2 separate regions of the Homo sapiens genome follow, and region 1 is linked to region 2. Evidence: fine-mapped expression QTL. A gene starts in region 2. The other region holds a variant in brackets. All regions are shown on one strand. Distances are from middle to middle. Region 1 overlaps NOS3 (nitric oxide synthase 3). Region 2 holds the start of ATG9B (autophagy related 9B).

Region 1 (8,000 bases), 21 kb before region 2:
ACTGTGAGACTGTGGGTTTGTGGGGGTAGGTGACTGTGGGTTTGTGGGGTGTGTAGGGGTGAGTGTGTGTGGGTTTGTAGGGGTAGGCGAGTGTGGGTTTGTGGGGTGTGTAGGGGTGAGTGTGTGTGAGTTTGTAGGGGTAGGCGAGTGTGGGTTTGTGGGGTGTGTAGGGGTGAGTGTGTGTGAGTTTGTAGGGGTAGGTGAGTGTGGGTTTGTGGGGTGTGTAGGGGGTGTGTGTGGGCTTGTAGGGGTAGGCGAGTGTGGGTTTGTGGGGTGTGTAGGGGCGAGTGTGAGAGTGTAGGTATGTGGGTGTGAGTGTGGATGTGTGTAGGCGGTGAGTGTGAAATTGTGGGTTTGTGGGGGTGGGTGGGTGTGAGTGTGTGGGTTTGTGGGTGGGTGTGGGTGTGAGTGGGTGGGTGAGGGGGGCATGGGGATGGGTGTGAACATGTAGTTGTTCTTTCAGGCATAGGACCCATAGCTCTAGAGCTTTCATCAGATTCTCAAAGGGGACCTTGACTCGGCAAAGGTTAAGACCCATTTTAGAGATGAGAAATTAAAGCCTGGAGCTGAGGAGCGACTGGCCCAAAGTCCCTCTCTGCTCTGAGGTGCCTTCGCAGGCAAAAACCTGAACCAGCCCCCTAGGCAGCCAGGCCTCCCAATGGACACCACTCACCTCACTCCTTCCAGCCATGTACGGGAAACAGAGATAGTCTCCCCACCCCACCCCCGTGATCACCTCTGTCCCTACCGATGCCACACACCCTTCTGCCCCAGGATGTGGCTGTCTGCATGGACCTGGATACCCGGACCACCTCGTCCCTGTGGAAAGACAAGGCAGCAGTGGAAATCAACGTGGCCGTGCTGCACAGTTACCAGGTGCAGAGGCCCAGACTGGCCAGGAAGGCAAAGGGTTTGCATACGGGGGCAGCAGGGGCGGGGGATGGAGGAGAGGCAGCCATTTAGAAACTAGGGCAGGATTTGGACAGGCAGAAGAAGTTCCGTAGTCCCAGTGCCATGGCGCACACTGGCCTGCGGTTCGGGGACAGGGCAGGTACTATTCCAGGCGCTGTCATCTGGTGGCTTACTGTGTGCCAGGGACCTTGCTGTTTACTGCATGCCCAGTCATGCTGATTCTCAGGGCATATTGGGTATTGCAGTTTGTGGGACCCGCTGGATCCTGGAAACAAATACCAGGATCAAGGGCACACCAGGAGTCGTAGTTTGAGGAAGCCGGGGCCTGCTGAGAATTTCTGTGGGCTATTTGGTTTGGGGACCAGGCATGCAGATGCTGGAGATTAGAGCTGCTTGTTGCATGTTGAACCTGCAGCATGACCATGCATGATGTGGTTTGGGGTGAGGGTGACATTGTGGTTTGAGGGGACACAGGGTGTGTTAGATATGGGGTAATCGAGGGCACATGTGGTTTGGGGTGACCGGAGTGGTGGAGGAAGAATGGGCGAGGTCTGTGGGTCTGGTTTGAGCCTCTCCCCCTCTCTCTCCCTTCCAGCTAGCCAAAGTCACCATCGTGGACCACCACGCCGCCACGGCCTCTTTCATGAAGCACCTGGAGAATGAGCAGAAGGCCAGGGGGGGCTGCCCTGCAGACTGGGCCTGGATCGTGCCCCCCATCTCGGGCAGCCTCACTCCTGTTTTCCATCAGGAGATGGTCAACTATTTCCTGTCCCCGGCCTTCCGCTACCAGGTGCCCACCCTAACTGGCTCTGCCAGCCTGGGCCCAGCTCTAATTCTAAGCAGCCCCTGGGGACCTCTAACCTTTCCTTTTCTTTACCTCCCCTCCCAACCCCATCATCTCTCTGCAGCCAGACCCCTGGAAGGGGAGTGCCGCCAAGGGCACCGGCATCACCAGGAAGAAGACCTTTAAAGAAGTGGCCAAGTGGGTCCCCTGGGAGCCCCGCTCTCCCACACACACCCTGGGGGCCCCACTCTCCCCCACACACCCTGGGGGACCCTGCCCCAGCAGTGTTCTGGGCCTACCACTCAGTATCCCAAAACCCTGTTGTGAGGGGGTTGGACCCTTGCCTGGGGAGGCCCTGCCTCTGTGCACCCAGGACACCCTCACACCTTCCTCTCCCGCAGCGCCGTGAAGATCTCCGCCTCGCTCATGGGCACGGTGATGGCGAAGCGAGTGAAGGCGACAATCCTGTATGGCTCCGAGACCGGCCGGGCCCAGAGCTACGCACAGCAGCTGGGGAGACTCTTCCGGAAGGCTTTTGATCCCCGGGTAGGGCTGAGCCCAGGGGAGCAGGGAGCTAGAAAGAGGGGGCTCTATCAGCATCTTCAGGGGTGCCCTGGAGGACAGGAAGTGTTACAAGTCAGGACTCATGAGGAACCCGGAACCACAGGTGTTCAGAGATCAAGTTGGGGCCTGAATCTTGCACTGCCAGGGAGGCCAGAGTGAGGAGGGCAGGGCCTCCGGGGGCCACAGCACCCAGGACATCTGTCTTCCCACCCACAGGTCCTGTGTATGGATGAGTATGACGTGGTGTCCCTCGAACACGAGACGCTGGTGCTGGTGGTAACCAGCACATTTGGGAATGGGGATCCCCCGGAGAATGGAGAGGTGAGAACTTCCAGGAAAGGGGCTGCTGGGAATGAGGAGAGACTCAGAATTGGAGTGACTGGGCAGGAACCTCTGCCCAACACACACACACACACACACACACACACACACACACACACACACACACACACACACACACACACACACACGCCAGGATGGAAAGGGAGATGCTAAGAGACCCCTGGAGCCTGAAACCCCACACAAGCTACGCTCCCAGCCCACCCATGTGGCTGCCTCCCTGCAAGCACATTTGCTTAACTGCGCGTCCCCAAGTCATTTCCATTATCAGTGCAAGTTTTTAATACAAGGAAGGCACATCCTGGCTGACCAAGAGGTTAGACTGTGCTCGGGCACTGACAAGAAAAACAGGGATACGTCACTGAGGGCGGCTTCTAGGATGCGGGTAATGTTTCTTAATGGGATACTGGTTACACAGGTGTGTTCAGTTTGTAAAAATCCACAGAGCTGTACATTTACAACATGTGCAACACTATTCCAGCATTTTATTTTATTTGTTTTATTTATTTTGAGAACCTATTTACGTTGCCCAGGCTGGCCTTGAACTCCTAGCCTCAAGAGATCCTCCTGCCGCAGGCTCCTTTTTCAAAAGAAGAAATTGAGCGCTGTTTAGATGCCAACATAGATTAAATAACTTCACTTTTTAAAAAGAAACACAAAGCTAGAGTACCATCATTGAATTCCTTCTCTTGCAAGCTTAGGTATCTCTGAGGTGCCCCAGGCTAGGCTCATTTCTGAGTCTTACCTGCTCCAGCTTCTAGGTGTTAAAGGCCTTATTAGCACTAAGTACTTCCTCAGTACTCTTTTTTCTTTTTTCCTTTGAGACAGGGTCTCACTTTGTGGCCCAGGCTGGAGTGCAGTAGTACAATCACGGCTCACTGCAGCCTCAACCTCCTAGACTCAAGCAATCCTCCCACTTCAACCTCCCAAGTAGTTGGGACTACAGGCGCATGCCATGATGCCTAGCTAATTTTTGTATTTTTTATAGAGATGGGGTTTCGCCATGTTGCCCAGGCTGGTCTCTAACTCCTGGGTTCAAGCAATCCACCTGCCTCGGCCTCCCAAAGTGCTG[C/G]GATTATAGACGTGAGCCACTGCACCTGGCCCTCAGTATCTTAAGCAAGTTGGAATCTCGTGAAACCCTTTTTGCTGCCTTAGTGTCCGTTTCAGCCCTCATTCTGACCTACCTTTTCAAGAAAAATAGCACCAGCAATTGACTTTTTTTTAGCATAAAGGTGTATAGACACCCATATAACCTACAGCCTTCACAAGGCATAGCACATTTTCACCACCCTGGAAAGTTCCCTCATCAGTTCCTCACGTGAATCCCTTCCCAGTCTGTCTCCCTGCCAGAAGTGTCTGTCACCACAGAATAGTTTCGCCTGCTCTAGAACGGCACCTAGATGGAAGCACGCAGTGTTGCGGCGTCTCCTGCTGAGGCTGTTTTTGAGGCGCACTCGTGTTGCTGCGTGACTCAGTATTTCACTCATTCTGCTGCTGAGTGCCGTTCATTGTGTGAATATCCCCAGTTTGTTTACCCATTCTCTTGTTGGTGACACTTGGGCTGTTTCCAGGTCGGGGCTATTATGAATAAACCTGTTATGAACATTCTTGTACCCGGCTTTTGTGGGCTTATGTTTTTATTTCTCTTGGGTAAATACCTAGGAGTAGAATTGGTAGGTCATAGGGTAGATGCATGTTTAATCTTTCACTTTTTTAAAAAATAAAACTGCCAGGCCAGGCGCGGTGGCTCACGCCTGTGATCCCAGCACTTTGGGAGGCCCAGGTGGGTGGATCACTTGAGGTCAGAAGCTCAAGACCAGCCTGGCCAACATGGCAAAACCCTGTCTCTACTAAAAATACAAAAATTAGCTGGGCATGGTGGCGCACGCCTATAGTCCTAGCTACTCAGGAGGCTAGGCGGGAGAATTGCTTGAACCTGGGAGGTGGAGGTTGCAGTGAGCCGAGATCACGCCACTGCACTCCAGCCTGGGTGACAGAGCAAGAATTCTACTTAAAATAAAATACAAATAAATAAAATAAAACTGTCAAACAGCAAAGCAAATTAAACTGCCCTTTAACATCTGTGCAGTTCAATGTATGTTAATTTTATCCCAAATTTTTAACAAATCTAGGAATACAGCTCACAGAAAATGGGGTATATTCACTAAAAATAAGGAATATTTATAGCAAATTTGTTTGTAATACCCCACACTGGAAACAATTCAAATGACCATCGACAAATACTGATAAATTGTGGTATATTCAAGTGCCATATCGCACTAAGTGTGAACGAAACACAACCACACACAACAGTGCAGGTGAATCTCAAAAAATGTGAAGAGAAGAAAAAGCCAGACCAAAGAATACATACTGTACTACAGGGTTCACTTTATATAAAGTTCAGAAACAGGCAGAACTAATCCACGGAGTTAGAAATTAGGAGAGGAGTTAGTCACTGGGATGGGGGTGGCAGTGACAGGAAGAAGGCACGAAGTTGGCTTCTAGGATGCGGGTAATGTTTGTTTGTTTGTTTGTTTGTTTGTTTTTGTTTTTGAGCTGGAGTCTCACTCTGTTGCCCAGGCTGGAGTGCAATGGCGTGATCTCGGCTCACTGCAACCTCCGCCTCCCCGGTTCAAGCGATTCTCCTGCCTCAGCCTCCCGAGTAGCTGGGATTACAGGTGCCCGCCACCATGGCCAGCTAATTTTTGTGTTTTTAGTAGAGACGCGGTTTCACCATGTTGGCCAGGCTGGTCTTGAATCCCTGACCTCAGCCTCCCAAAGTGCTGGGATTACAGGCGTGAGCCACCACGCCCAGCCACGGGTAATGTTTCTCGATGGGATGCTGGTTGCACAGGTGTGTTCAGTTTGTGAAAACTTACAGAGTTGTACATTTACAACATGTGTGCACCTCTGGACTTGTGTTGCACGTTGACAAAACATTCAAAAATGAAATTCAAATCGTTCTTGCTAACTCTGGCGCACTTGGGAACCAGCACCCAGAGGCATCTGCAGTTGAGCACCAGATGCAGTTCCTTCCAGCTTCCTTCCCCCTGGGAGGTCCGCTTGATGCCACTTCTTCATGGCAGCACAAACAAGGCCATGGTCTTCTGAGGAGGGCAACCTGCACAATGTCTGCTAGTGACCAGGACACTGCTGAAGGAACTGAGAGTTTGTCCACCCATGAAATCCACTAAAACAGGAAAGATTTTGCTCTAGCCGTTGTTAGCCAGGAGTGAGGAAAGAGCTGTGCCCTCCCCTGCAGCTGCGAGGACGATCTGCCTGCCCCAACAAGTGGGGATTCAGCAACTCCACTTCTAAGGATTACCCAGCTGAAGCATTTAAAAGTGGGAGCAAGGCACACGTACAAGGGCGTTTGAGAGAGCACCTGTTCCCAGACCACCGAGCTGCCCTTCAGTCTCAGTGAAGTACAATGTAGCCACTAAAAAGACTGAGGTCATGTTTTGGAAAGTCCAGGCCGGAGGATCGCTTGAGCCCAGGAGTTCAAGGCCAGACTGAACAACACAGCGAGACTCCATCTCTTCAGAAAATTTAAAAATTAACCAAGAGTGGTGGCACGCACCTATAGATCTAGCTACTAGGAAGGCAGAAAAATCCCTTAAGCCCAGGAGTCTGAGGTTACAGTGAATGATGATGGAGCCACTGCACCCCAACCTGGGCGACAGAGCAAGACCCATATCTAAAAACAATACTACTACTTACGTCAATATTGTTGTATTGACCTGGAGGGATGTCTGCAATAAATTATTGATTAAAACCAAGGAAGTACAGTATGGTACCACTTTTACTTAAAAAAAAACTATAAATATGCACATGCACGTAAGTTCAAGGAAAAAGGGCTGGAAGGTTAACACCTGTCAATGGCGCATATGCCCGGAGGGAAGATGGGGTGGTCTTTGTCTTATCACTTTACACATTTCTGTAATGTCATTTTTCAAAAACATCAGATCGCTTTTGAAATTTTCAAAACAAATAAAAATTAAGTTACAAATCAATAATAATGAGGATCAGCTGGTACAGTTTTAAACTTCTATGTAGTTTGAAATGAAACAAAACTAACCCTGATGCAAACACTCCCCTCGCCAGAGCTTTGCAGCTGCCCTGATGGAGATGTCCGGCCCCTACAACAGCTCCCCTCGGCCGGAACAGCACAAGTGAGTTGGGTGAGAGTTTGGGGGAGCTGGGGGAGCTGATGCATTTGGAGACACAAACAGAAAGGGGGTCTGAAAAGCTCTCCCTCTGTGCCTCAAGTCGTTTTCCCACCAAAAGCCAGGGCTCCAGGATGCCCTCCATTCCAGGCTGCAATGGCAGTCCAGACCTGCCTGCTTCTGAGAGCCGGGACAGTCCTGAGGTCTTCAGAGATGGGGGTGTGGTGTGTCAGGGCCCCAGGCTCGGAACCCCAGGGATGCTGGCCCTCAGCCCCTCCCAAGGGCAGGGCCTTTCCTGTCCCAGAGGCAGAGACCCTGAAGCCGTCCCTGGGGCTGGGGCTGGGCCTAGCCTGTATCCCCAGGGCCCTGTGACAACCTTGTCTTTGTCCTCTCTTGCCAGGAGTTATAAGATCCGCTTCAACAGCATCTCCTGCTCAGACCCACTGGTGTCCTCTTGGCGGCGGAAGAGGAAGGAGTCCAGTAACACAGACAGTGCAGGGGCCCTGGGCACCCTCAGGTCAGGGCCTCACCAAGAGGGGTGCAACGGGTGGGCAAGCTGCCTGGGCAAACGTGGCCTGCAAAGGGAGCTCCACTGACGACCCCTGCACCCCAGGTTCTGTGTGTTCGGGCTCGGCTCCCGGGCATACCCCCACTTCTGCGCCTTTGCTCGTGCCGTGGACACACGGCTGGAGGAACTGGGCGGGGAGCGGCTGCTGCAGCTGGGCCAGGGCGACGAGCTGTGCGGCCAGGAGGAGGCCTTCCGAGGCTGGGCCCAGGCTGCCTTCCAGGTGAGCCCAGCCCAGCCCCTGCTCTGACTCCTGCCCCCTGGGATGCCTCCTCCTGCCTCACTCTGCCCTGATTCTGTTTGGTTCTTTGGTCCCTTCCTGTTCCTTCCAAAATCCACCCTCATCTCTCCATGGCATAGCCAGCTCTTCTGGGTCAGGGGCAGAGGATGACATGGCCCTGCCGACCACAGGGGTGCCTAGCCCAGGCAGAAGTGCAGCCGAAAGAGAGCAGGCAGGGCCCTGGCAGGAGGGAGCTTCAGCCAGGCACAGGCTGGGCCTCACAAGTGGGCGCACAAAGGGAGGGGGTGCAGGGCAGGGCAGGGGACCCCACCCAGGATGGGCAGGATGGAGGGAGAAGGAAGGGACAGAGAGAAGGTCAGACAGAGGCAAGGGCTGAAGCTGAGGCCAGCACAGAAGCCACAGGAAGCCAGAGGCCAGACAGCCTGGGGC
Region 2 (13,291 bases):
AAGAAGCCTCCCCACCCAGTCACTCCCTAGACTCCTGGTATAGTCCGTTTGTCTCATGCCCTCTCCCAGACAGACCCTCCGCGCAGACAGACCCTCCGCGCAGACAGACCCCACAACTTCCTCCTCAGCCCGCCGTCGCGCCCACCCTCACCGCTCGGTACTGCAGCAGCTGCGCCATCTGCCGGTAGGCGCGGTCCCTGCCGCCGGGGCCGGGCTCCTCCGGGAGGTAGTGCATGTGGGCCAGGGCTGTCTGCAGCAGGAGCTGCGGCGCACGACCCTGGCACTGCTCTTCCGGAATGAAAGACCTGAAAGGCGGGATCCGTGGGGGGAAGGGGCCTGCGATTAGGAGGACGCGCGGTGGGATGTAGGGCTAGAGGGCCCCAGTGGTGGGAGAGGTAAGGATTCGGGGGGAACCTCACATGGCCCCAGATCAGAGAAACCAACACACACCACCACCCCGGGCATCTGCCGTCGCACCTGGCGACGGTGGCGGTGACCCCGAGCGCGGTCATGGCGGTGAGCACGTGCTCCACGGCTAGCACGTCCTCGTCGTAGACGGTGAGCACAAGCAGCGCGGCGAAGAGTGCACCCGCGAAGAAAACGAGCTGGCGGGCCAGCAGCGTGCGCAGGGGCGCGGGGGGCGCAGCGGTGCGCAGGAAGGCGGCGGCGGGGCGGTAGGCGCGGGCCAGGCGCGCGCGCAGCTCGTGCGGCAGCTCGTTGAAGTGGCGCAGCTGCAAGCGCGCCAGGCGGGACCAGCCGCGCGCCCCCAGCGCGCCAGGCTCGCGCCGCAGCAGCTCCACGTGGCTATAGAAGACGTGCAGAACCTGCCAGGCCAGCACCAGCGGGCTCAGCGCCAGGTTCAGGGCGGCCAGCAGCAGCACTGTGCGCCCCCAGCGCGCTGCTAGGGCGCCCCGCTGGTCGCTGCGCTTGTAGGCGTGCGGCAGCTCCCAGCCCCCGCGGAAGAGCGAGAAGGGACCGCGGAAGAGCAGCAGGTCGACATTGAGCGCCAGGCCGCGGCTGAGGAAAGCCGCACTGCCTCCCCAGGGCAGCGGGCAGCGGGCCGGCAGCAGGCCTTTGTTGGCCAGCGCCACCTGGTAGTTGGTGTAGCGCAGGATGCGGTGGTGGATGTCCAGCTCCGTCAGGGGCCGCGGCTGCACGCACAGGCCCCCGCTCCGCTGCAGTGCCAAGAGGCGGGACTGCACCTCTGCCCAGGGAACCGAGCTCAGCTCCTCCTGAAAGGGGCACTGATGAGAGCCAGCGACCCCCCATTCCTCTCCACAGTGATGCTCAAGCTCCACACCCCTAAGTGTGCGGCCTGAAAACCCGCAAACTGAGTTTGCGATCACAAACTCGCCATGACCAAGCTACATCGTCCCCCTCTCCCACCTTTCTCTTTCTGCCCTCCCTTAACCCTGTCACTAACAAGGGCGCGCCCTACTTCCTTCATCCTCTTCTAAACTGCCCTGTTCATCATCCCTGCCATTCATGTGGCCAGTAGTCATGCACTTCCTGGGGACGCCTCCAGGTGCTGGACCTGGCTTCTCAGCTCCTTAAGGGCCTGAGGCCCCCTCAGTTGTACACACAAAACAGACTGGCTGGCCAGGGGCGGTGGCTCACACCTGTAATCCCAGCACTTTGGGAGGCTGAGGCAGGCAGATCGTCTGAGCTTAGGAGCTCGAGACCAGCCTGGGCAACATGGTGAGACACTGTCTCTACTAAAAATACAAAAAATAGCAGGGCGTGGTGGTGTGCACCTGTGGTTGCAGCTACTGGGGAGCAGAGGCTGCAGTGAGCCAATATCACAGCACTGCACTCCAGCCTGGGTGAAAGACCCAGACCCTGTCTCAAAAGAAACAAAACAAACAAAAAAACAAAAAACCAGAATGTCTGGCAGTTCGTGGGAGAATCTCTCCTTCCCATTTCTAGTGCACCCACCAACTCTGGAACAGAATCCTCCCCACCTTCTGCCTGGGCATGCTTTACACTCCCAGCCCCACCCGACTCCAGGCCATCTTCGGCTCTGTCACCAGAAGCCTTCCCAGGACCTGGGCTATGTCCACATCTGGCAGTGGGGCACTGTCAGATCTCATTTGAAGGCTGCAAACCTCACTTCAGCCCAGTTTCACTCAGCTTTCCCAGTCCAGGTTAGTCAAGTCCCCCAGGCTGGCCTCTCCAGTACATCCCAGTGTCTTCCCTTCCCTTCCCCTGGAAGGAACAGGGGAGGAGGGGAAAGAAGGGAGGAGGAGAACGAGACGGGTGAGCAGTCTCCCGCCAGAGCCAATCCGAGGTCCAGCTTCCGCTCTCACCACCTCTGCTTCCCCGGCCTCCTCCCTCTCCTCTGCTCAGGGGCCTTCTAAGACCTCTCCCCTTGCTGCACATAAAGGCTGTGCAGAGGGCTCCGGACCTCCCAGGGGAGCAAGGGAAGCAAGCTGCAGAAGGCTACTTTCAAGCTGTGCCTCAAAGAAAGAACTTAGATACAGAGGAGGGAGGAGCAGACTCAAGATGGTGAGGAAACAAAGGGCAGAGCATAAGCAGTGGACAGTGACAGGCCAATGCAGTGGCTTCCTGCAATGCGGGGGATGGCTTTGAAGGCTCTGTTTTAGGCTGATGGGTCCATCTCCTCACTGCAGCTTCCAAAAGCTCATGGCTTTTCCCCACCTTCCTGCACTGGGGCTTAGAATGTGCTCCCCTCCCCTCCTGTCCTGCCCTTCCGAAGCCCAACCCAAATTCCTCCAGCTCTGAAAAGCCAGATAACTGCCCTTTCTCTTTTCTCTAATCAATGTTTTTAGCACAAACATGTAACTATATGTCATCTTATATGAGCCATCTAAATAAACTAAACTCCCTTAGGGTAAGGGCCATGCTCTCTAGGTGGTGGTAGCCCCCTCCTGACATTATTCTGGGCCTAGGGCAGGTGTCAATAAGACCTCGCTCTTTCTGCCCTCTTTCCAGTTGGCCCTTCCACCTGTACAGTCCCACTTCTTCCCCTCTCCTCTGCCCACCCTCTCACGGCACCCTCTGCACAGACACAGCCACCCAGCTCACCGGGGGGATGTGCAGGGCCTCCCTGTAAAACACCTGGATGTCCCAGTAGCTGAAGAGGTTGCAGACTGAGCGAAGCAGTTGGACCAGCCAGAAGCCGGCAGCCAGGACCAGGAGGAGGACCAGCAGCGGGCTGGAGCGGATCCTGTATGGGGTTGGGCGGGCAGTGGGGGAGAAAGGTGGGCGCCTGAGAAAGAGGCAGACCAGACTTCGGGAGTGAGGAAAAACCATCATGAGGAGGGGGATCTAGCTAGACCAGCAGCTCTCAAGGTAGAGCCCGGGGCAGGGGGTGGGTGCTGAAGTGGCCTTCACAAATGTGCAAAGTCAAACTTTTTCCAAATAATACTAATGCTTTCTGATGTTTTCATTCTTGTACTCTGAGAGTACAGTGGAGTTTTCCAGAGGCTACAAGACACGTGAACATGTCACATCACACTGACAGCTGATGAAATGTGTGCTTGTACACTCTTTTTTTTTTTTTTTGAGATGGAGTCTTGCTGTGTCGCCCAGGCTGGAGTGCAGTGGCGCAATCTTGGCTCACTGCAACCTCCACCTCCCGGGTTCAAATGATTCTCCTGTCTCAGCCTCCAGGGTAGCTGGGACTACAGGCGCCCGCCACCACACCTGGCTAATTTTTGTATATTTTAGTAGAGACAGGGTTTCACCATGTTGGCCAGAATGGTTTTGATCTCCTGACCTTGTGATCCGCCCGCCTCGGCCTCCCAAAGTGCTGAGATTACAGGTGTGAGCCACCACGCCCAGCCGCACTCTTACATTTTAAAGTTGTTCTCAGCTACAATTTCCTTCTTTTTTTTTTTTCCTTTTTATTGAAACAAGGTCTCTCTCTGTTACCCAGGCTGTAGTGCAGCAGTAGAAACATAGCTCCTATCTCCCTGCCAAATAACGGCCCAGGTCTGGAACAGTTATTTGGTTGGTTGGCAAAGAGAACATTGCAATCCATGCTTCAGGGAGGAAGGTTGTGAAGGCAACAATGAAAATGAATCGTCTGCTGGGAGGGAGGAGGGTGTAGGGATGCTGCAGTGATCAGAGACAGTCACTGTCTTAGCCTCCTGACTAGGCTTAGCTAGGACTGCAGGTACGCACCACCAAGCCCAGCTAATTTTTATTTTTTATAGAGATGTGGTCTCACTTTGTTGCTCAGGCTGATCTCAAACTTCTGGCTTCAAGCAATCCTCCTGCCTCAGCCTCCCAAAGTGCTGGGATTACAGGTGTGAACCACTATGCCCGGCCTAATTTTAATTTTTTATAAGGTAAAATGTGGATAGATACGACTCCCATAAACAAAAGCTTTTCAGGATTCTCAACCAATTTTAAGTGTATTAAGATACACTTAATGCACTGTAATTAAGATACACTTAAAAGGCCGGGCACAGTGGCTCACACCTGTAATCCCAGCACTTTGGGAGGCCAAAGTGGGTGGATCACCTGAGGCCAGGAGTTCCAGACCAGCCTGGCCAACATGGTGAAACCCTGTCTCTACTAAAAATACACGTGGTGGTGCACGCCTATAATCCCAGCTACTGGGGAGGCTGAGGCAGGAGAATTGCTTGAACCTGGGAGGTGGAGGTTGCAGTGAGCCAAGACCTCACCATTGCACTCCAGCCTGAGCAACAAGAGTGAAACTCTGTCTTAAAAAAAAAAAAAGATATACTTAATACACTTTAAGTACAACTTAATACACTTAAGTACAACTTAAAGTATATTAAGTGTATTTTTGGTCCTAAGACCAAAAGCTTTGAGAACTGCTGATCTAGATGACGGGACAAAGTGGGGCTCCCGTCTACTCCTCTACCCACTGCCCATGCTTCACCCCCAGGGCCCCACCAGGTTGTCACTAACCTCTCAGCACACTGGGCTGAGGGTAGGATGGCATCTGACAGGGTCACTTTGCTGTGGAACGGCCCAGGTCTGGTATGGTTACTTGGTTGGTTGGCAAAGAGAACATTGTAATCCACGCATCGAAGGAGGAAGGTTGTGAAGGTGACAATGAAAATAAATTGTCTGCCGGGAGGAAGGGGGGGTGCCGGGATGCTGCAGTGATCAGGGACAGCCAGGTGGGCTCCTGCCCCAGCCCCCAGAGCAGCCCATGGTTATCCTCCCTGACCCTGCCCCTGCTGAGCCCTTGGGCTGCTCGGGAAAGCATGGGATGGAAGCAGCTGGCACAATTAAGGAAGCAAAATGACAGAAGGAAGCCATGGGCCCAGGGGACCGAGTTCCGGGCCCGGGCTAAGCGTCTCACCCCAGCTGGAAGACATCCTCCAGCAAGATGCAGGCAAAGCCATTCCGCTGGTGGTAGCTGTAGATGTGGCTGCGTGTCAAGGAACAAGCCTGAGGCACGGGGGGCCTCTCCTGAGGACACCTCCCCTCAGCCCCAACAAGTCTCCCACCCATGACGCCCTCACGGAGTCTCCCTGCCAAGAACAGTGCCAGCTCCAAGAGGACCTTCCCATGCCACCTCTGCAGGCCTAGCGCAAAGGATATCTTGGTGAAGAAACTGTCCAGGTTCTGGATGTGATGCCAGGAGCCTGGGCACAGAGGGGAGAGTGTCAGCCCCTGGCATGTGATCAATTCTCCACGTTCTCAACCCGCTGCCAGAGGCCCAGCCTGGGATAAGTACTGGAGCTCCCAGGCACCACTAACCCTCTCCCACCCACACCCACACACATACCTCGGAGCCCTTCAGGGACATGAAGCAGGGGTTGCTGCTCCTCCCCGTGGATGGGTGAGTCTTGGGACCCCTCAGGGTCACAGTCCTCCAGCCGCTCATAATCCTGTTCAGGGATCAAAGGGCCTACCCGCAGCCCAGGAGAGTCCTGGGGGCACTGCTGTGAGGGAGTGGGGGTTGCCGGGGCCAGGGGTGGGGTGGAGTGGGATCCCCAGGAGGGAGATGCAGAGGCAGGTGTCATTGCAGGTTGAGCCTGTGTTGGGGGGGTGGCTGGGATAGGGAGAGCACTGTGGCAAGACTGAGAAGCCCCTGTCCCCTGTAGCACTGAGCAAGGGGGCCCTGCGGTGGGAGGGGAAAATGAGGAGGGGGAGCTTCTTGTATGAGGGGCAGGGGACAGAGAGAAGATGGAGATCCTCCCTCCCCCAGGTCCCCGGCATGAAGGAGGAGGAGGAGGTGGCAGTGGCATGGGGAGGAGGGGCACCGATCCGGGCCCCAGATCTCCCCACCGCCCCAGCCGCCTTCTTCTCCCCCCCCAGCCCATTCGGCTCACCATCAGGCCACGGCTTCTCCAGAAAGGTTGGAAGGATGGGAGCTGTTGTTGCTTCCACAAAGGTCTGTGACACTGAGCTGGGACTTCAACAGGAACAATGACAACAACATTACTAGGTGACTCAGCCTAGGCAGGCCTCAGGCGTCCCAGCTCTCAGTCACCTGTCTGATCACTCACACCCCTTCCAGGGCAACCTGAGGCCAAATCCCTCAGGGCCTGAGAGGGGCATCAGTTTAAGAGGAGGGGCCAAAGAGCACATTGAGATGAGAAGATTCCTATTATCTCCATCTTCAGACCTTGAATGAATGAAAGATAAAAAGAACAGCAGCCAAAATGACAAAAGCAAAAAGCAAAATCGTGTTAGAGCCAGGTGTGGTGATGTGTGCTTGTGTTCCTAGCTACTCAAGAGACTGAGGTGGGAGGATGGCTTGGTGCAGGTTACACTGGAACAGTATAGGTTACAGTGAGCTAGATCCTGCCCCCTGCCACCCCCCCCAAAAACATCCTATTAAAGGATTGTAGCAGGGCGCAGTACCTCACACTTGTAATCAATCTCAGCACTTTGGGAAGCCGAGGAAAGAGGATTGCTTGAGGCCAGGAGTTCAAGACCAGCCTGGGGAACAGAATGAGAAGACTCCATCTCTACAACAAATCTTAGGACCAAGATGTTAACTATTTCATTTCTTAAGAGTGTACCTCCCCCACTTCCCTCCACACACACACTACAGTGATCAACAGAGAAATGTTTTGTGACCAAAACAGAAAAGAAGAAGTAAAGGGGCCAGGCATGTTGGCTTACACCCGTAATCCCAGGACTTTGGGAGGCCCGGGCGAGAGGATCACTTGAGGCCAGGAGTTCGAGACCAGCCTGAGCAACTTAGGGAAACACCATCTCTACAAAATCTAAAAAACAAACAAAATAATTTTTTTTCTTTTTGAGGCAGTCTCACTCTGTCACCCAGACTGGAGTATAGTGGCACAATCTCGGCTCACTGCAACCTCCGCCTCCCAAGTTCAAGTGATTCTTCTGCTTCAGCCTCCTGAGTAGCTGAGACTACAGGTGTGTGCCACCACACCCAGCTAATTTTTTGTATTTTTAGTAGAGATGGGGTTTCACCATGTTGGCCAGGCTGGTCTTGAACTCCTGACCTCGTGATCCACCCGCCTTGGCCTCCCAAAGTGCTGGCATTACAGGCGTGAGCCACTGCGCCTGGTCAAAAATAAATTTTTTAAAAAGAATAAGAAAAGGTTGCATGTTTTATTGGTCTGAGGTGCTAAGGAAGAGAAGAGGGGAGGCTGACTTTGCAGCCAAGTTGGGGAAAACTAAGAAGAGGAGGTGAAGAAAGGAAAGGCAGCTATCTTGGATTTGAGAGTTGGTTTGGAGAACTTAGAGTAGAAAATTGGGGTTCTCTGAAAGTTCCATTCCGTTTGCATCCTTATCATTTTCAACTGTGACATTCTCTCAAGTCCGGATCCCACTTCTGGGACCCCCTGAAAAGCATCAGGGCTGAATCAGAAGGGAGGACAGCTGTGAGTCTGGGACTTGGAAGGATAATTTGGATACCCAGGGAGGAGCTGAACTGAGTTCCTTGTTGTCACCTCAACAAGGAGGAGGAGACCCAGGCAGCTGGTCTGGTGGCTTGCCCAACGCCATTCTTGAGGCCCTGAATCACCAGGTTTCCTTCTAAAGCCCATTACTGAGATACTGACTCAGCCACCAGGTGTCAAGGTCTCTAGGGCTTAGGCCTAAGGGCTGATGTTGGGGCCAGTACCCCTGAAATGGCGATATGGACACTGTGCTTCCCAGATTGTTCACTGGAGGCAATCATGGAATCACCCACAAAACTTGAATCCAGATGTGCCTGATTTTCTCCTTCTGTGTGGGGTATTGTAGTAGTAGCTCAGGTCTTGCATGCCTTTATCTCAGAGTAGGAGGCAGAGCTATGAAAACAAGACCCTGTCCTTCTAGAGGTAGCAAAATGGAATCCCACATTGCAGAGGGGCCAGGAAATTCCCATAATCTTTCTGAGACATCTGTCAAGATGGGTTATGTGGGGTGTTGTCTAGTCTCTCCCCCACCTCACTCGCCCAATGTCACTCAGTATCGTGGCTATTCCACCATAGTCACAATAGGACCCCCCCATACACCAAGAGCTCCCCAGCTCAACCCCAAACTAATCCTGGGACATTGTCCTACCTAGTTTCACCCTGAATTCATTCTCATTGACAGCCTCCCTACCACCACTCCCAATTCAAGTCGATTTATTTTAAAGGGCACTTTTCCTTGCCAAGCATTTGGAAGGGAAGAGGACAGATGAATAAAACAGAGCCACTACCCAAGAAGCTGCAGCCCAGTGGGGAGACAAATACGCAAACAAGTAATTACAGGGAAGAAACGAGTGGTGCAAACTCTTTGGCAGGAGCCTGAGGCAAGTCATTCTGACCCGGGTGAGGAAGGTATCTGCGAGGCAGACAGATCTGAGGCCGCGCCTTGATAAATTACAGGCCCTCCATACCAATAGTTCTCAATGGCTGAGGCGTAGGGCAAGAGTGTCAGAATCACCGGGGGAGTTCTTCCCCAAGTACACGTGACTGTGGGGAAAAGAAAGAGAGATCAGATTGTTCCTGTGTCTGTGTAGAAAGAAGTAGACATAGGAGACTCCATTTTGTTCTGTACTAAGAAAAATTCTTCTGCCTTGAGATGCTGTTGATCTGTAACCCTACCCCCAACCCTGTGCTCCCTGAAACATGTGCTGTGTCAACTCAGGGTTAAATGGATTAAGGGCTGTGCACGGTGTGCTTTGTTAAACAAATTCTTGAAGGCAGCATGCTTCTTAAGAGTCATCACCACTCCCTAATCTCAAACCACTCCCTAATCTCAAGTACCCAGACACAAAACACTGAGGAAGGCTGCAGGGACCTCTGCCTAGGAAAGCTAGGTATTGTCCAAGGTTTCTCCCCATGTGATGAAATATGGCCTCGTGGGAAGGGAAAGACCTGACCGTCCCCCAGCCCGACACCCATAAAGGGTCTGTACTGAGGAGGATTAGTAAAAGAGGAAGGAATGCCTCTTTGCAGTTGAGATAAAAGAAAGGCTTCTGTCTCCTGCTCGTCCCTGGGCAATGGAAATGTCTCGGTGTAAAGCCTATCTCTACTGAGATAGGGGAAAACCGCCTTAGGGCTGGAGGTGGGACAGGCTGGCAGCAATACTGCTTCTTAAGGCATTGTGATGTTTATGTGTATGCACATCAAAAGCACAGCATTTTTTTTTTTACCTTGTTTACGATGCAGAGACGTTTGTTCACGTGTTTACCTTCTGACCTTCTCTCCACTATTATCCTATTATCCTGCCATACCCGATAATGATCAATAAATACTAAGGGAACTCAGAGGCTGGTGCCGGCGTGGATCTTCCGTAAACTGAACTCCGGTCTCCTGGGCCCATTTTTCTTTCTCTATACTTTGTCTCTCTGTCTCTTTCTTTTCCAAGTCTCTCCTTCCACCTAATGAGAAACGCCCACAGGTGTGGAGGGGCAACCCACCCCTTCACGTGACAGATGTCCCAGCAGTTCTGACGCACCTAGGAGAGCGGGGTGGGTGGCAGGGCATATGTACGTGTTTTGAAAAAACTCCCAGTCGATTTTTGTTCATTCCTCCCCCAAAACCCGCGTTCTACACGCCCTTGAGACGACGGGACATCTAGAGATCCTGGAGCCTTGGGAAAATGGCCCGAGGTCGGCGGCTGACGCGTTACTATGGATACTCCATAGCTTGGAGGGCCAGTCGGGCCACACCCTTTGGACGTCACCCGGAGCCCACAGGAGCACCTGGCAAAAGCCAGGCCCACTTCCTGCTCGGCTCCGCCCAGAGCAGGGGGCGGGCGGATAGGCGATTCCCTCCAATCACAGTTCCAAAAGGAGGGGGCTGACAACATATCCTCCAATCACAGCTTGAAGTGAGATTGATGTGTCTTTTCACCAATCACCGCCAAGGCGCGAGGGGGTTGTCGGGATGGGGGCGGGAGCCAACATAGAGCCCTCAGTGGGATGAGGGTGAAACTGCTATTGCCGGCGGCTCCTGTTTTACCGCGTCAGCATGCTGGTGCATTTATTTCGGGTCGGGATTCGGGGTGGCCCATTCCCAGGCAGGCTGCTACCGCCCCTCCGCTTCCAGACATTCTCAGCTGTCAGGTAAAAACGGAAAAACCTACTCAGAGCGGGCCATTGACCGCCCGGCAGGGCAGTGCCGGCCCGCCGGGAGATGGAGTCCACGAGCTTGCGCGAGGCTTGCTGGGAGCTGTAGGCCAGGCCTACCGGGGTGGAATGTCACTCCGCGGGTGTTGGCCTCAATTATTTATAGTGACACTCCAGTCGCCAGCAGGAGGCTCCTGCGTCTGCAGCCGCGTGTCAGCCAGAAGGAGGGGACGCTCGGGGTCAGTGACCACGCCCAGTCCGCACTCCCGACCGGGGGTCCCCTTTCCTGGCCCTGGAGGTGATTGCGCGATTTGGACGAAAATTCTTATTAGTATGAAGAGACATTTAATGTAGTGGTGCTTCCAGGATTCAAAGTGAGTCGAAGAAGAACTAGAGATGTTCAGCAGGGATAAAGAGCCAATCTAATAGGCCGGGCGCGGTGGCTCGCTCCTGTAATCCCAGCACTTTGGAAGGCCAGGAGTTCGAGACCAGCCTGGCCAACATGGCAAAACCTCGTCTCTACTAAAAAATACAAAAATTTGCCGTGATTGGTGGCACGCGCCTGTAATTCCAACTACTTGGAAGGCTGGGGCAGGAGAATCGCTTCAACCCGGGAGGCGGAGGTTGCAGTGAGCTGAGATCATGGCCACTGCACTCCAGCCCGGGTGATAGAGTGAGACTCTGCCTCAGAAAAAAAAAAAAAAGAGTCAATCTAGTAACTTGTACATGTGTGTTTTTCGCAAAACACTCTACACAGGTTGGTCGAGAGAGAGAGACAGACAGACAGACAGATGGGAAACAAACAAGGACCCTGAAACTACAACTCGAATGTAAATGCTTTATGAGAAGGGACTGATTCCTTTTTTTTTCTTTTCTTTTCTTTTCTTTTCTTTTCTTTTTTTTTTTTTTTTGAGACAGAGTCTCGCTCTGTCACCCAGGCTGGAGTGCAGTGGCATGGTCTCGACTGACTGCAACCTCTGCCTCCTGGGTTCAAGCAATTCTCATGCTTCAGCCACCCAAGTAGCTGGGATTACAGATGTGCACCACACCCGGCTAATGTTTGTATTTTTAGTAGAGACGGGGTTTCATCATATTGGTGGGCAGACTGGTCTTCAACTCCTGACCTCGGGTGATCTGCCTGCCTCGGCCTCCCAAAGTGCTGGGATTACAGGCATGAGCCACCTCACCTGGCCATCCTTTCTAATCCTAGAGTGAATTACTTGGGGGCCAAACAGATAGAAGATTCCCAAGGGCAGGTGGATGTGGAGTTGTGTCATTTGGAAAGCCCATCTGACTGATGGAGGGCAAGAGCTGGATCGAGCTGGAGCTGGAAGTCTTGGTACTGGGAAGTAATCCACATGCTCTTGGCAACGACCAAGACTTTCTTAGAGTCTTAGTTTGGAGACAATGCAAGAAGCTGGAAAAAGACCATGCTAAATTATTGAAAGGTTTAAAAACAGTTCTTAGGAAAGAGTAAGGGTGTTGATGTTATTTAAACCAGAGAGAAACCCAAGGAAAGACATAAAATAATATTCAAGTATATATGTGTTCATTAGTCAGTATTTTTCAATAGATTATGAAATGCATTTAGTTGGTCAGGACCATTTAAAAGTAAATATAGGCTGGGCACGGTGGCTCACGCCTGTAATCCCAGCACTTTGGGAGGCCAAGGCAGGCGATCACCTGAGGTCAGAAGTTTAAGACCAGCCTGGCCAACGTGGTGAAACCCCGTCTCTGCTAAAAATACAAAAATTAGCCAGGCGTGGTTGCACGCACCTGTAGTCCCAGCTACTCGGGAGGCTGAGGCAGGAGAATTGCTCAAACCTGGGAGGCAGAGGTTGCAGTGAGCCGAGATTGTGCCATTGCGCTCCAGCATGACAGAGCAAGACTCCGTCTCAAATAAATAAATAAAAGTAAATGTAGGCCAGGCACAGTGGCTCACACCTGTAATCCCAGCACTTTGGGGGGCCAAGGCAGGCAGATCACTTGAGGTCAGGAGTTCAAGACCAGCCCGGCCAACATGGTGAAACCCCATACAAAACTTAGCCGGGTGCGTTGGCTCACGCCTGTAATCCCAGCACTTTGAGGGGCCGGGGCAGGCAGATCACTTGAGGTCAGGAGTTCAAGACCAGCCTAGCCAACATGGTGAAGCCCTGTCTGTACTAAAAATACAAAAATTAACCAGGCATGGTGGTGGGCGCCTGTAGTCCCAGCTACTCGAGAGGCTGAGGCAGGAGAATCGCTTGAACCTGGGAGGTGGAGGTTGCAGTCAGCCAGCATAGCACCACTGCTCTCCAGCCGGGGCAAAAGAGTGAGACCCTGTCTTGAAAAGAAAAGAAAAGAATCAGAATACATGTTAAGAATTAGAGAAAATGTTATTTTGTGAAGCATTTCCATTTTGTGTGGCATGTATGTGTTCATTGTACTGGGTTGCAAGTAAGATATGTTTCTTGCTGTAGGCCACAGTAAGTCTAAACATTTGCAAAACCCTGTAGTAGTTAGGTCAGATTGTCCTGCACCTCTAATGAGGGCATGCATGTGCTCAACAAGCATAAACATTTGCGGAACATCTATTATGTACCGGAGTTCTGCCAGTGCTGTCTAAGATATAATTTCCTGCCTTTCAGAAACACATGGCGTAATGGGAAAACTGGACAGTTACACAAGGCAGAAGGAGAGTAAGCGTCTCTATCTTTCTAATAGAAACAAGAACACAGTGGAAAACAAGACATAAAAACCTGGCAGTTGGAATGGGGTGGGAGAAGGCCTCATGTAGGCAAAAGGCACAGGCCTTCCTGAAAGCAGGGGAAGGATGAGATG

What was found. PIP is the estimated chance that this variant, and not a neighbour inherited with it, causes the effect.
Region 1: its variant is fine-mapped to the expression of ATG9B in whole blood (TOPMed, PIP above 0.99).

The regions. Positions count from the first base shown.
Region 1 is chr7:150,999,724-151,007,723 of GRCh38, forward strand. NOS3 (nitric oxide synthase 3) reads left to right here. Exons shown (of 27, transcript NM_000603.5): 10 at 775-876; 11 at 1,508-1,702; 12 at 1,821-1,894; 13 at 2,098-2,242; 14 at 2,477-2,581; 15 at 6,704-6,771; 16 at 7,166-7,282; 17 at 7,379-7,553. Among named protein-coding and RNA genes, the nearest start is that of NOS3, 13 kb to the left of the region's middle. RefSeq lists a silencer at 503-665 and enhancers at 1,519-2,718, 1,996-2,496, 6,933-7,513, 7,514-8,000. The variant C/G (reference allele first, on the strand shown) is at 3,672.
Region 2 is chr7:151,018,143-151,031,433 of GRCh38, forward strand. ATG9B (autophagy related 9B) reads right to left here and starts at 6,352. Exons shown (of 14, transcript NM_001317056.2): 1 at 5,732-6,352; 2 at 5,545-5,588; 3 at 5,303-5,367; 4 at 4,903-5,064; 5 at 3,046-3,187; 6 at 478-1,232; 7 at 152-305. The coding sequence starts at 6,281. It overlaps LOC124901777 (a long non-coding RNA gene), which reads right to left and starts at 10,116. Exons shown (of 3, transcript XR_007060593.1): 1 at 9,821-10,116; 2 at 8,665-8,870; 3 at 6,853-6,891. ABCB8 (ATP binding cassette subfamily B member 8) reads left to right here and starts at 10,308. Exons shown (of 16, transcript NM_007188.5): 1 at 10,308-10,468. The coding sequence starts at 10,374. RefSeq lists a silencer at 899-968 and enhancers at 7,263-7,867, 8,473-9,076, 9,077-9,681, 10,287-10,891, 10,331-10,640 and 1 more.